Linked DNA regions of Homo sapiens: all the other regions are linked to region 1. The links come from fine-mapping of genetic effects on gene expression. A gene starts in region 1. Each other region holds a variant in brackets. All regions are shown on one strand. Distances are from middle to middle.

Evidence for each region. PIP is the estimated chance that this variant, and not a neighbour inherited with it, causes the effect. A credible set is the group of variants that fine-mapping cannot tell apart.
Region 2: its variant is the best candidate, but not a certain one, in a credible set for the expression of CABP5 in whole blood (TOPMed, PIP 0.84).
Region 3: its variant is the best candidate, but not a certain one, in a credible set for the expression of CABP5 in whole blood (INTERVAL, PIP 0.62).

The regions. Positions count from the first base shown.
Region 1 is chr19:48,041,581-48,046,804 of GRCh38, forward strand. It overlaps CABP5 (calcium binding protein 5), which reads right to left and starts at 2,499. Exons shown (of 6, transcript NM_019855.5): 1 at 2,280-2,499; 2 at 1-23. The coding sequence starts at 2,342.
Region 2 is chr19:47,872,629-47,877,852 of GRCh38, forward strand. It overlaps SULT2A1 (sulfotransferase family 2A member 1), which reads right to left. Exons shown (of 6, transcript NM_003167.4): 5 at 2,029-2,206. Among named protein-coding and RNA genes, the nearest start is that of LINC01595, 5.9 kb to the left of the region's middle. The variant G/C (reference allele first, on the strand shown) is at 2,334.
Region 3 is chr19:47,896,738-47,901,961 of GRCh38, forward strand. No RefSeq gene overlaps it. Among named protein-coding and RNA genes, the nearest start is that of SNAR-A12, 8.3 kb to the right of the region's middle. RefSeq lists an enhancer at 135-429 and a silencer at 135-429. The variant GT/G (reference allele first, on the strand shown) is at 2,944.

The DNA of each region.
Region 1 (5,224 bases):
TCATCTTGTCCCAGTGGTCTTTCCTGGAAAGGAATGCAGATGAGAGGGAATTTGGAGAGAGGGTCACCCATTCTCCAAAGGGTCTCCTTGTTCTCCCAAGCTCCTCCCCACGCTCTCGTGGTTCTCTTTCCATTCTCTCTCTCCTCCTCCATCCCTCCCATTCCTTTTCCCATCTCCTGACTCCTGTTCCACAGTTCTTGGCTCCCCACCCCCCTCTCGATGTCTCTCTCCCACCCACGAATCCCAATCTCCCTTTTTCTCCCTTTCTGAGACAAACACCCATCACATTGTGTCAAAGGGGGTCTTAAACACTGGGGAGTCCAATCTCCAGATGAAAAAAGTGAGACTTCACAACCACAGCTAACTCATTCAGAGTGGTGACTCTGTGCCAGGCAGTTTCCACAATCATTTCATTTAAACCTCAGTACTGCTCTGTGATGCAGATCTACATCTCGTTTCCATCTTACCCATGAGAAAGCTGAGGAACAGAGAGGTTAAGGAACCTGCACAAGGTCACACAGCTCACAAGCAGCAGATCCCCTCCCAAGGGAGGAAGGCATTCACCTGCTCCCTGGAGGTCATGGGGCAAGTCAGACACAGTATTGGGATTTGAATTCAGGGCTCCTGACTCCCAAGTCAGAATTCTTCACACTAGCCCCCATTCACTCCTTTCTCACCTGCCTCCAATCTTCCTGCCAAAGGTTAGAATCTCTGTGCATGGAAACAGCATTCAATGGCTTTCAGGCAGGAGGGTCAGTGCCAGCATGACCAGTTCCTAAACACTCTGAGAATGTCCAGTTATTGCTGCCCCACCTACTCCTGCACATACCTGAAGGGTTGGGCTTACATATACATGGCATGTTAACAAGGAAATTCTACTGACCTCTGGTCTCTTTAGCCTTCCCATCTCCCTTTATCCCTGGAGCCTTTCCCTCAGCTTCTCTTTCATCTGATCCCCTCCTTGCGGTCCCTTATCACCCTTTTTTTCATTCTCTCTCTCTTTTTTTTTTTTGAGACACAGTCTCGCTCTGTCACCCAAGCTGGAGTGCAGTGGCACGAACTCGGCTCACTGCAACCTCTGCCTCCCGGGTTCAAGCGATTCTCCTGCCTCAGCCTCCCGAGTAGCTGGGATTACAGGCGCCTGCCACTGCACCCGGCTAATTTTTGTATTTCTAATAGAGACAGGGTTTCACCATCTTGGCCAGGCTGGTCTTGACCTCCTGACCTCGTGATCCACCTGCTTTGGCCTCCCAAAGGGCTGGGATCACAGGCGTGAGCCACTGCCTGGCCTTTTTTATTCTCTTTTTTTGGTGATCTTAAAGCCTAACAATGAAAAGTATGCCCACATATCTGGACAAGTTGGTATATATGGAAAAATAAAAAAATTTTAAAAAGCATGCCCACAGGAATCAAGCAAACCCGACCCTGCCACTTACTTTTTTTTAACGAGACAAAGTCTCACTTTGTTGCCCAGGCTGGAGTGCAGTGGCATAATCAGGGCTCACTGCAGCCTCCACTTCCTGGGCTCAAGCGATCCTCCTGCCTCAGCCACCTGAGTAGCTGGGACTGCAGATGCATGCCACCATGCTGAGCTATTTTTTTGTATTTTTAGTAGAGATGGGGTCTTGTGTTTCCCAGGCTGGTCTCAAACTCCTGGACATAAGTGATCCTCCCGCCTCTGCCTCCCAAGATGCTGCGATTCAGGCATGAGCCACTATACTTGGCCGACCCTGCCACTTACTAACTGTGTAAGCTTAAGGCAAATGACTTCATGACTCAGAGCTTCACTTTCCTCACCTGTAAAATGGGAATGAAAGTCACTGACCTCATGAGTTGTTCTGAGGTGTAAATAACATCAGGTGTGCAAATCCCTTTGCACAGGGCTGGGCACAGAACAATGACTTAATAAGTGGCAGCTATTGTTATTAACGTCATCATTATCATCACCACCACCACCATCATCACCACCATTATCACAATGAGCATCCATAGAAAAGAATGATGGTAATCTCAACAATGACATCATCCCACTTTCCCTTTTCATTTTTCTTCCTTTTCTCTCCTTCTCTTTGCTCCTGACTTTTGATTTTACCCCCACCCATTTATCTCACTGGCTTACATGACCCCACCAGGGTCCTTGGAATTTCTTATACCTTCTCAGCTCCTGCTCTATCCACCTGTTCCCCTGGTTCTGTGGCACCATCATGTCCCCTTCTTTGTCCCACACCCCTGCTCCCTTTGCCCCGCCCACCGCCCTTCCCCCTCACTCCCCACCTCACCCGCTGTTTCTCAGCAATGCCTTTCCTCAAGAAGATGCAGGCGGGGCCCATGGGGAACTGCATGGAGGGGTGGGGTGGAGCTCGCAGGGCACCAGTCTCAAGATGGCCCCTCCTCCCTGCTCCCTGTCGGAGCTCAGCCTCCTTATCTTCTCCAGCACTCCTTTGCCACCTCTTCCTGCCTCTCTTGGCTTCTCCTTCGGTCCCGGTGTCTTAGAGCTGTGACAGCTGGGCTGGAAATCTCTACCCGGGTTGGGGAGGGACCAGAGCTGTCCCTGCCTCCCCATCTGGCTTGAATGATATGGGTGGGGAAATGCAGAGTCAGGTTCTGTGACGCCTTTATCCCCAGAGTGGAATTGGAAAGTGCATTTTATAAATGGGGATTAGAGGCTGGATGTGGTGCTCATGTCTGTAGTCCCAGCGCTTTGGGAGGCTGAGGTGGGAGGATTGCTTGAGCCCAGGAGTTTGAGACCAGCTGAGCAACATACGGAGAGGCTGTCTTTACAAAAAATAAAAAAATTAGCCGTGCATGGTGGCACACACCTGTAGTCCCAGCTGCTCCAAAGGCAGAGATGGGAGGATTGCTTGAGCCCAGGAGTTCAAGGCTGCAGTGAGCTATGATTGTACCATTGCACTCCAGGCTGCAGTGAACTACGATTGCACCATTGTACTCCAGCCTGGCTGACATAGTGAGACCCTGTCTCGAAAAAAAGAAAAAAAAAGAAAAAAAAGAAAAGAAAATGGAGGATTAGAGCAGACGGCATCATTTATTCAATGTTCCAACAAGCATGTGAAGGGTCACTCCAACACTGGCCTCTGGGCAGTGAGATGGAGAGCTCAGCACCCCTGGCCTCAGGGAGTTTTCCTGGGTGAGTCGGGAATGTGTGAGAGTGAGCAGGATGCAAGCATGGACTTCAGGAAGTGGGCGTACACGGTGACTAAGAGCATGGCATTTGCTCTTCCTCTGTTCATCTCTTTCCTTCTGTCTTTCCTGAATGATTTAGAGGGAAAAAGCAAGGTGGGGGTGTCAGGGAGGGTGTGAAGTTATGGTGGTGTCAAAGCCCAAAGGGGTTTTGCGACTCCACACTAGGTAGGGTTAGGGGAGGAGGGGGCTGGGGGCCATCTGGCGTGGAGAGCCAGCATTCCAGTGGGGTAGTGGGGTGAGGAGAAGTCCACATAGAGGGGCAGCATGACCCAGGGTGTTGGGGCTGGAGATGGTGGGGATAAATCCACAGATGGGCAGCTTGGTGTGCAGTGTTGGAACATGAGCTGAGTGGGGCGGGGGCATTTATATGCAGGCATTGTCTGGGGTGGAGGTTTGCACTGTAAGGCAATTAGGAAGGAGGCCACATAGAGGGGATCTGGCATGGGTTGTCATAACCCAAGCAGAGAGAGAAATGTCCACTCATGGGAATAGCATGGTGTATGGTGTTGAAGCCAGACTAGGCTGGGAAAGACATCCCCACAGGGGTGAAATGGCAAAGGAAAAGGGAAATTGGCTACACACAGTGAGTAAGGGGAATGGGGGCCAGGTCTCCTACTGTTGGAAAAGGGAGTTACTAAGACAGAAAGGAGGAAAGTCGAATGAGCCCTGTGGTGTTGGACTATAACTGGAGGCGTTGGTATGTCCTCATGGATCTCAATTATACATAGAGAGATAAAAATAAACACATAGTTTCAGTGTGTATAGGAACATTTGTACACATATTCTCTAGCTCTCTCCACTAAGAGAACATAGAAACAATGATGGCCCATATGAATGAGCACCACTAGCATCCAAATCTTGACTTCTATATACCATTCTCCACCAAATGGAACCAGAGTGCCTAGGAAATTTGGCTGATTCCATGTCTAGAGCAAAAAAAGAACAAGATGAGCCTACAAACGTCCTATGCTTAAAGCAAGAAATTGCTCAAAGTGTTGTGAGAACATGTGGAAAGAACACAGGAGTCTGCTTGAAGAAGCTCCATTGGCCATACTGGGCAGTTTGAGAGTCAAAATAAATAATGATAGTAACAAATTATACAGGACCACAGAAGAAACCAGGAGTCCATACTCAGATAAATAAAAAGCTAAGTGAGAAGTTTGATATTTACAGAGCTCAAAATACCTCCCTACAAAATACCAATTTCAAAGGAGTTACGTTATAGTGGAGAAACGTGGCAAACACCATCTTAGTCAATGAAAGTGGACATCATCAGTAATGTGACAAGTTGGAATTTCACACCACCTGACAGGATGTCACGAGAACAGCATCGCTTCTGTAAGATTCCTGAATCTCATCATAATCAGACGTCAGACGAACCCACATGGAGGGATGGTTTACAAAATAACTGGCCTGTAAGCTTCAAAAATGTCAAGGTCATGAAAATCAAGGAAAGATTGAGGAACCGTTCGAGATTGGAGGAGACTAAGAAGACATGGCCGAGGCTGGGCGCGATGGCTCACACCTGTAATCCCAGCAATTTGGGAGGCTGAGGTGGGCAGATCACCTGAGGTCAGGAGTTCGAGACCAGCCTAACCAACGTGGAGAAACCCCGTCTCTACTAAAAATACAAAAAAATTAGCCCGGCATGGTGGCACATGCCTGTAATCCCTGCTACTCGGGAGGCTGAGGCAGCAGAATCGCTTAAACCCAGGAGGCGGAGGTTGCAGTGAGCCCAAGATCGTGCCATTGCACTCCAGCCTGGGCAACAAGAGCAAAACTCTGTCCAAAAAAAAAAAAAAAAAAAAAAAAAAGCTACGACTGAATGCAACACAGAATTCTGAACAGGATCCTTCTGCTATCAAGGTCTTCTTTCGGATGACTGGTGGTTTGCTGGCAATAGTTTGGCGGCCCTTGGTCAGTAGAGCCTCACCCCAATCCCTGCTTCCATGTTCACATGGTTTCCTCTCTGTATACATGCCTGTCTCTGTCTTTAAATCCCCCCCCCTTTTTTAAAAGAATT
Region 2 (5,224 bases), 170 kb before region 1:
TCCCCATCCTTGCTGTATTTCGCCTCATAACACATATCATGTAGGACAGGTTCTGTGTATTTTCTTTCTGTGGTGTATGTGTATGGTATGTATCCCTAATATAGATAAGTTATACAAAGTCTCAGCATTTATCTTTTTTTTTTTTTTTGAGATGGAGTCTTGCTCTGTCTCCCAGGCAGGAGTACAGTGTTGTAATCTCGGCTCACTGCAACCTCTGCCTCCTGGGTTCAAGCGATTCTCATGTCTCAGCCCCACCCCAAGTAGCTGGGACTACAGGTGGGCGCCACCACACATGGCTAATTTTTGTATTTTTAGTAGAAACAGAGTTTCACCATGTTGCCCAGGCTGGTCTCGAACTCCTGAGCTCAAGTGATACACTTGCCTTGGTCTCTCAAAGTGCTGGGATTACAGGCGTGAGCCACCGTACCCGGCCAACGTTTACTTTTACGATTGCCCAAGACTCTGGGTCTTTTGAAGGATTTAATTCTTTTCTTCCACGGAGGACTGTCCCAGATGTATTAGAACTGTAGGATTTTGGAAAAATGGATTTTTGTTTTGAGCCGGAGTTTCACTCTTGTTGCCCAGGCTGGAGTGCAAATGGCAGGATCTCGGCTCACTGCAGCCTCCTCCTCCCAGGTTCAAGTGATTCTCCTGCCTCAGCCTCCCGAGTAGCTGGGATTACAGGCGCCCACCACCACACTTGGCTAATTTTTTGTATTTTTAGTAGAGATGGGCTTTCTCCGTGTTAGCCAGGCTGGTCTTGAACTCCTGACCTCAGGTGATCCACCCGCCTTGGCCTCCCAAAGTGCTGGGATTACAAGCATGAGCCACCACGCCTGGCCCTGGAAAAATGGATTCTTTCACCCCATGCAATAGACATTTCCATTCATCTTGGCACCTTACAGCGTGTGATAGCAAAGTCTCTCTTCTCTCCCTTTTCCAGGTGAGGCATTCCTTCACACATTTCTTCATCCAGGACAGATCTCTTTTTTTTTTTTTTTTTTTTTTTTTTTGAGACGGAGTCTTGCTCTGTCGCCCAGGCTGGAGTGCAGTGGCACGATCTTGGCTCACTGCAAGCTCCGCCTCCTGGGTTCACACCATTCTCCTGCTTCAGCCTCCCGAGTAGCTGGGACCACAGGCACCCGCCACCATGCCCGGCTAATTTTTTGTATTTTTAGTGGAGATGGGGTTTCACCATGTTAGCCAGGATGGTCTTGATCTCCTGACCTTGTGATCCGCCCGCCTCGGCTTCCCAAAGTGCTGGGATTACAGGCATGAGCCACCGCACCCGGCCCATCCAGGACAGATCTCTATGCTAACTCACCAGTGGGGCAGCTGCACTGTGGCCATCCCCAACCCCGTCCTTGTCCTCATTTCTCAGGTGAATCACAGCTTGTAGGTCTAGCAAGGGTTGCTAGTTAACCTGCTCACTGTCTGTAGAATGGATAATGCTCATGTCACATTCTGAGGAAAGAGAATCTGAATGACCTCACGTAAGTCAGATAACCTTCCCGGGCGGAACCAATTTTCCCCACCCACCTACAGCCCACATCAGTACCACAAGAAGAGGCTCCCTGCTGAGGCCACGGGAGAAGTGTTCTGGGCGATGAGCAATTAAAGCTGATAAATTGGCCGGGCGCCGTGGCTCATGCCTGTAATCCCAGCACTTTGGGAGGCCGAGGTGGGCGGATCACAAGGTCAGGAGATCGAGACCAGCCTAGCTAAGATGGTGAAACCATGTCTTTACTAAAGATACAAAAATTAGCTGGGTGTGGTGGCGTGTGCCTGTAATTTCCAGCTACTCGGGAGGCTGAGGCAGAAGAATCACTTGAATCCTGGAGGCGGACGTTGCAGTGAGCTGAGATCGCACCACTGCACTCCAGCCTGGGTGATAGAGCAAGACTTCATCTCGGAAAAAAAAAAAAAAAAAAAGCACTCTTTCATCTCAACTGTTAGCGCCCAGTTGTGACCATAGGCATGCATGCCGTGTATTCTGGTATATTTGGAAACCAGAGGATTTTCTTTTACCTTTTCTCAGAAGTTGTGCTTTGTCCACTACATAATCAACACTCAGGAGGGAATAATTGGACATCTTGTTTTCTTTCATGCTCTGAAAGGAGCTGTTCTTGAGAATTAAGTTCAGTTCTTCGGGTTCTAACGTCTTTCCCAGGAATTGACAGATCTTCTCTATGGTTCTTCCTGTGTCCTAAAAAAGAAAAATCAAGAGAGAGGATACGAAAGAGAAAGACAAGGCTGGGCGTGGTGGTTCACGCCTGTAATCCCAGCACTCTGGGAGGCTGAGGCGGTTGGATCACTTGAGATCAGGAGTTCGA[G/C]ACTAGCCTGGCCAACGTGGTGAAACCCCATCTCTACTAAAAATACAAAAATTGGCAGGGTGTGGTGGTGGGCGCCGGTAATCCCAGCTACTCGGGAGGTTGGGGGAGGAGAGTTGCTTGAACCCAGGAGGTGGAGGGTGCAGTGAGCTGAGATCACGCCACTGCACTCCAGCCTGGTGACAGAGTGAGACCTTGTCAAAAAAAAAAAAAAAAAAAAAAAAAGACAATAGAAAAAAGTAAGATGAGAAGGAGGGAACCGCAGAATGAGGAGGAGGAGGAAGAAGAGAGGAACAACATGCAGATGTGAGAAGGGATTGAGTTGAATGCAATTAGGAGAAAGAAAGAAAAAAGGTAAAGAAGAGAGGGCATGAAGTATGTAAAAGATGCAAGGATGGGTTGGGCGCCGTGGCTCCTGCCTGTAATTCCAGCACTTTGGGAGGCTGAGGCAGGCGGATCACTTGAGTCCGGGAGTTTTAGACCAGCCTGGGCGATATAGTGAGACCCTGTCTCTACAAAAAATACAAAAATTAGCCAGGCATGGTGGCGCACAGCTGTGGTACCAGCTACTTGGGAGGCTGAGGTGGGAGGATCACCTGAACCCAGGAAGTTGAGGCTGCAGTGAGCTGTGATTGCACCACTGTACTCCAGCCTGGGCGTTGGAGTGAGACCCTGTCTCAAAAACAAAACAAAGCAAAACAAAACAAAACAAAACCAACCAGAAAACCACAAAAGATGCAAGGATCATCGTGGATTTTCCCGTATGGTAGAGTTTAGGACAACTTAACAGTAAAACACAGAGCCTCGGGTTTCCTAAGAGACGTTTAGAGAGGCTTCTAGACAGTAATTAGGGTTAGCAAGGAGAGGTTCAGGGAGAATCTGATGGAGATTGAAGGCTTGATTTCAAATCCTGGCTGTACTGTCAGATAGTACTGTTTCCCATAACTAGCTTTTGAATAACACACAGAGTTTTACAATATCTTCTTATATTTCATCTCAATAATTAGGACTAGGTACATGATCCTGGGAGATTAATAGATTTTTATTTTTAAAATTTTATTTATGTATTTATTTAGAGACAAGATCTCACTCTGTCGCCCAGGCTGGAGTGCAGTGGCATGATCTCAGCTCACTGCAACCTCCGCCTCCCAGGCTCAAGCAATTCTCCTGTCTCAACCTCCCGAGTAGCTGGGGTTACAGGCGTGCGCCACCACTCCCGGCTAATTTACGTATTTTTAGTAGAGAGGGAGTATCACCATGTTGGCCAAGCTGGGTTCCAACTCCTGAGCTCAGGTGATCTGCCCACCTCAGCCTCCCAAAGTGCTGGGATTATGGATGTGAACCACCGCACCTGGCCAACAAAATGGATTATTGTAACCAGAAGGACTTTGCTTTGAATCATAGGCCTTACTCTTAGATCTATAATGCTTTAATTTTTTCCTCTATTTCATAAACCTTGGTTATCTAATAAGAAGATGTACAACTATGGAAATAACTAAAATAAGTTCATTGTGTGATCCGAAAGGAAGATCCCAGGAAGGTATGGGATCGTGTATCTGAGGTAGCCAACCAAACTTGTTACAAAGGGCTTCTTAACAGAAATGAAATTCATTCCAGCTTGGTCAACGTGGTGAAACCCCATCTGTACCAAAGATACAAAAATTAGCCAGGTGTTGTAGTGCATGCCTGTAATCCTAGCTACTTGGGAGGCTGAGGCACGAGAATCACTTGAACCGGAGAGGTGGAGATTGCAATGAACTGAGATTGCGCCACTGCACTCCAGCCTGGGTGACAGAGCAAGACTCTGTCTAAAAAAAAAAAAAAAAAAAAAGATGGCCGGGCGCGGTGGCTCATGCCTGTAATCCTAGCACTTTGGGAGGCCTACGGGAGGATTGCCTGAGCTCAGGAGTTCGAGACCAGCCTGGGCAACATGGTGAAACCCTGTCTCTACTAAAAATACAAAAAAAAATTAGCTGGGCATGGCGGCGTGCATCTGTAGTCCCAGCTACTCAGGAGGCTGAGGCAGAAGAATCGCTTGAACCCGAGAGGCGGAGGTTGCAGTGAGCCGAGATCGTGCCACTGCACTCCAGCCTGGGCGACAGAGCAAGACTCCACCTCATAAAAAAAAAAAAAAAAGAAATTCATGCCCAGACCATAGGCCATAGAGGATTGGAGAGGATGAGCCAGAGGAAGGTGTTGGGACGTGACGTTTCCCAGGTGGTACAAAATCCAATGTTGGTGTTATTTTCTCTTTTATGTGAGATATCACTAATAGGTCAAGTTCTTTTTTTTTTTTGAGATGGAGTCTTGCTCTGTTGCCCAGGCTGGAGTGCAATGGCATGATCTCGGCTCACTGCAACCTCCGCCTCCTGGGTTCAAGCGATTCTCCTGAGTAGCTGGGTCCTGAGTAGCTGGGACTACAGGTGCACAACACCACGCCTGGCTAATTTTTTATATTTTTGGTAGAGATGGGATTTCGCCATGTTGCCCAGGCTGGTATCGAACTCCTGACCTCAAGTGATCCCCCTACTTTGGCCTCCCAAAGTGCTGGGATTACAGGTGTGAGACACCGTGCCCAGCCTTCTTTTTCTTTCTTTTTTTTTTTTTTTGAGACAGGGTCTCATTCTGTTGCCCAGCCTAGAGTGCAGTGGTGTGATCTCGGCTCACTGCAACCTCTTCCTCCTGGGTTCAAGTGATTCTCCTACCTCAGCCTCCCAAGTAGCTGGGACTACAGGTGCCTGCCACCATGCCCGGCTAATTTTTTGTATTTTTAGTAGAGATGGGGTCTTGCTATGTTGGCCAGGCTGGTCTCGAACTCCTGGACTCAAGCCATCCACCTGCCTTCACCTCCCCAGTGCTGGGATTACAGGCGTGAGCCACTGAGCTTGGCCTCA
Region 3 (5,224 bases), 140 kb before region 1:
GACAATGTGTGTGCATTATGGGAAGATGTGTTAAGCCCTGGCCAGGCCTGCTAGCTTCAGAGAGCTAGCTCATGGGTCAACTTCAGACTCTGGAAGAAGGACTTTCACCCCACTTTCCATCTGCACGCTATGTCAAGTCAGGGGTCCCTGATATCTGTGGTCCAAGCTCTACAAATGCGTGTGTTCACTGTACAGCAGGGGAAGTGTGCCTTTGAGTTTCTGCTAAATAGGCTTAATTCCACCTGCCACAAGCTGACAAAGACCTGAGATCAGGGCTTCATGCTATCTAGTTATCTCCCTGTGTACCTTTGCCCTTTCCATTTACCTATAAACGGCATGCCTGGGCAACGCACCAGGATCTACTTCCATCAGGTTGGTGGAAAAGTAATTGCGGTTTTTGCCATTACATTTATGACATTGCAATTACTTTTTTTTTTTTTTTTTTTTGAGACGGAGTCTCACTCTGTTGACCGGGCTGGAGTGCAGTGGCATGATCTCGGCTCACTACAACCTCTGCCTCCCAGGTTCAAGCAATTCTCTGCCTCAGCCTCCCGAGTAGCTGGGATTACAGGCACCTGCCACCATGCCCAGCTGATGTTTGTATATTTAGTAGAGATGGGGTTTTCACCATGTTGCCCAGGCTGGTCTTGAACTCCTGACCTCGTGATTCACCCGTCTCGGCTTCCCAAGGTGTTGGGATTACAGGCGTGAGCCACCATGCCCGGCCTTTTTATTTTTATTGATTTTTTTTTTTTAGGTGGGGTCTCACTTTGTCATCCAGGCTGGAGTGCAGTGGCACGATCTTAGCTCACTGCAACCTCCGCTTCCCAGGTTCAAGCGATTCTTCTGCCTCAGCCTCCTGAGTAGCTGGGATTACAGGCATGTGCCACCATGCCTGGCTAATTTTTGTATTTTTAGTAGAGATGGGATTTCACCATGCAACCCCAGCTCACTGTAACCTCTGCCTCCCAGGTTCAAGCAATTCTCTGCCTCAGCCTCCCGAGTACCTGGGATTACAGGCACCCGCTGCCATGCCCAGCTAATTTTTATATTTTTAGTAGAGACAGGGTTTCACCATTTTGGCCAGGCTGGTCTGGAACTCCTGACCTCAGGTGATCCACCCATCTCAGCCTCCCAAAGTGGTGGGATTACAGACGTGAGGCACTGCACCCAGCCAAGAAACCGCAGTTACTTTTGCACCAACCTAATAGGAGCCATTCCTGGACATTGGTCCCGTTTTTATTTTATGATCCAGGGGCTCCATCTGGATTTGCAGGAAGAGAGAACAGAAGTTTCACACTGATTCCAGGCCAAAGCCTTGAGCGCTAGCACCCGTTGGCAGAGGACTCCTGCATTTGCAGGATATTTAGGAACGCCCTGGCAACAACAGAAGTGGAACATTCCTCATTTTTCACTGCCCTTCTGACGCTGTGCACGTAATTTTTTTGTAGAAGGAAATAGATCAAATTGTAGGAGTTAGGAAGCAAATGCCTGAGGTTGAATGCGCTCTGTATTTGGTATCTGCTGGATGATAGGAAATGGGTTTTTTTGTTTTGTTTTGTTTTTGTTTTTGTTTTTTTTTTGAGACAGAGTTTTGCTCTTGCTGCCCAGGCTGGAGTGCAATGACGCGATCTCGACTCACTGCGACCTCCGCTTCCCGGGTTCAAGCGATTCTCCTGCCTCAGCCTCCTGCGTAGCTGGGATTACAGGCATGCGCGACCATGCGTGGCTAATTTGGTATTTTTAGTAGAGACGGGGTTTCTGCATGTCGGTCGGGCTGGTCTCAAACTCCCGACCTCAGGTGATCCACCTGACTCAGGCCTCCCAAAGTGCTGGGATTACAGGCATGAGCCACCTCGCCCAGCCAGGAAATGGTTTTATTGTGGACTTCTATTTTAGTCCCCCACCCCCAGGAAGTATAATCCCTCTAACTGCCTGGATGGCTCCCATCCTGTTTATAAGACTCCAGGGAGGGAATCATCAGTCTCGTTTCAATCTATAGATTGGTGCAAAAGTAACTGTGGTTTTGGCCATTACTTTCAATGGCAAATCTGCAATTACTTTTGCACCAACCTTAATAGGGTTCCTAATTGTTAGGATGTATTGCAAGACACTATAGTGGCATAGCCCAGATGGGGCAAACAGAATATGTATGGTTTGTTTCCTGACTCTGAGCAGTCAGCAGTCGATGCACAGAACTCTGCACGCCCCTCCCCCCACAGTGTCTATTCCGGTTCAAGCATGCCTACTGAAACACTAATTTAAGTCCTTTAATTTCTACCGGTTGACCCTGATGATGTCTGTGATGTTTAGACTTTTGTGTCAGCTTGGCTAGCCTGCAGTACGCAGTTTTTTGTTTTTTTTTAACAGAATCTTGCCCTGTCGTCCAGGCTGGAGTGCAGTGGCACAATCTCAGCTCACTGCAACCTCTGCCACCCGGGTTCAAGCAATTCTCCTGCCTCAGCCTCCTGAGTAGCTGGGATTACAGGTGCCCGCCACCACACCCGGCTAATTTTTGTATTTTTAGTAGAGACGGGGTTTCACCATGTTGGCCAGGCTGGTCCTGAACTCCTGACCTCAGGTGATCCACCTGCCTCAGCCTCCCAGGCATGAGCCACTGTGCCCGGCCCAGTACCCACTTGTTTAATCAAATGCTAGCCTAGGTGTTGCTGTGACAGTATTTCGTAGACACAGTTAACATCTACAATCAGTTGATTTTAAATAAAGGAGATGAATGGCGATAACCTGGGTGGGCCCAAGCTAATCAGTTGAAGGCCTTAAGAACATAAAGAGGTTTCCTGTAGAAGAAATTCTGCCTGAAGACTGCAGCATCAAATCCTCTCTAAGCTTCCAAACTTCCAGCGTGCCCTACAGATTTTGGACTTGCCAGCCTCTACAACTGCATGAGTCAATTTCGTCAATTTCTTTACTCCTCCCTGCCGT[GT/G]TTTTTTTTTTTTTGAAACAGAGTCTCGCTCTGTCGCCCAGGCTAGAGTGCAGTGGCACGATCTCAGCTCACTGCAACCTCCGCCTTCTGGGTTCAAGCGATTCTTGTGCCTCAGCCTCCCAAGTAGCTGGGATTACAGGCGTGCGCCACCATGCCCAGCTAATTTTTGTGTTTTTAGTAGAGACGGGGTTTCCCCATACTGGCCAGGCTGGTCTTGAACTCTTGACCTCATGCAATCCACCCACCTCTGCCTCCTAAAGTGTTGGGATTACAGGCATGAGCCGCCGTACCCAGCCCAATTTCTTGAAATCAATCACTTTCCTGTTGATTCTGTTTCCCTGGAGAGTGCTAACTGTCCCCTTATCCTATGCCACAGATTTACTCTTCTGATCCTTTCATTTATTTGATACTCGGTGAATTATACGAACACTAACTATGGGCTGGGCCCCATCTTGTCCAATAATTTCCCCTCTGCATATAAGCCCAGACTCAATTTAAGATCCCTAAAACATGCACCAGTGCCCAGATGTCCTTAATGGAGCTAAGGTTTCAGGCTATTGAAGATGTTAGGAAGGGAGGACAGAAACCAAACACAGTAAGTTCTCAACACAGAATTCAGAATTTCTCTCTTATTCTATATGATTGTTCTTCTGACTACATATATACCTTTTGTGACAAAATACGAACACCTTTGGAGATTAAGTGCTTAACCAGTGGGATTGCTTCATATATCATTATCTGTAGCCTCACTCCCTCAATTATTTCTTTCTTTTTTTTTTTTTTTTTTTTTTGAGACAGGGTGTTGCTCTGTCACCCAGGCTGGAGTGCAGTGGCAGGATCTCGGCTCACTGCAACCTCTGCCTCCCGGGTTCAAGCGATTCTCCTGCCTCAACCTCCCGAGTAGCTGGGACTACGGGCATACGCCACCATGCCCGGCTAATTTTTTTTTTTTTTTGTAAAAAGAGAGGGGGTTTCACCATGTTGGCCAGGTTGGTCTTGAACTCCTGACCTCAAATGATCTGCCTGCCTCGGCCTCCCAAAGTGCTGAGGTTACAGGCGTGAGCCACCGTGCCCAGCCATCTACTCTTAAGTTTGGTTGAAGTTTGTTTATATATTGTTAGGTTACAGTTTGCCACATAAGGAGGCAGCTTTAGGCCAAATTTCACTTAATTTAAACAACTGGTTTTCTCAATGCTGCAGTGAGGTGAGGGCAGAAAGGCTTGAGCGCTTGATGTGTCGGGAGGGAAATATCTTCACTAACATAGAACAACCTGAAATTTCAATGGATCACATCTGAGAAATGAATCTGAGGTTGAGTTGAAATCAAATATATAAAGTCAGGTAGGAGTGAGGACAAAATGCCAATACTTGATGTTTCATAAATGCTTTCATACATACCAGGGAACTATTATTATCTCTATTTTAGAGTTAAAAAAGGGGGTGTTCAGAGTGGTTAATCATTTTACGAAGTCATGTAGCTCCTAAGTGGCAGAGCTGGGATTTGATCCCAGGCACTTTCATTCCAAGTCTGTGTTTGTAATCTGTGACTTATGGTCCCCAAAAGATACGTTCACGTCCCAACCTCTGGAACCTACCAATGTGACCTTATTTGGAAAAAGGGTCTTTGCAGATGGCATCAAGTGAAGAATCTCAAGATGAGAGTATCATTAATTACCTGGTGGGCCTTAAATCCAATAACAAGTATCCTTATGAGATAAAAAAGAGGAGAAGACACAGGCACACAGAGTAGAAGGCCACATGAAGTTGGAGGCAGAGACTGGAGTGTTGCAGCCATAAGCCACCGAAGGTCTGCAGCCACCAGGCGCTGGAAGAGACCAGGAAGGATCCTTCCCCAGAGCCTCCAGAGGGAATGTGGCCTGACCGATACCTTGATTTTGGACTTCTGGCCTCCAGCACTGTGAGAGAATAACCCACGATAGTGTGGTGGTTTGCTCTGGCAGGCACAGGAAGCTAATACAGTGCTCTTTAGTTCTACATGGCCCCGCTTCCTCCAGAGCTACGTGGGCCTTCCCTATTAGTTGATGTTCATCAGTTCTATTGCACAAAGCTGAAGATGTCCAACAACGGTACTCAAATCCCACACATCCTTGGGGACCTTGAGGGTTCTAGGCTCTCTAAGGTAAGGTGCCTGTTAGGGAGGACAGAATCCAGAAACAGTGAGTTCGTTTTTTTTTCTTTTCTTTTTCTGTTTTTTTTGAGAGGGAGTTTCACTCTTATTGCCTGGCTGGAGTGCAATGGCAAGATCTCGGCTCACTGCAA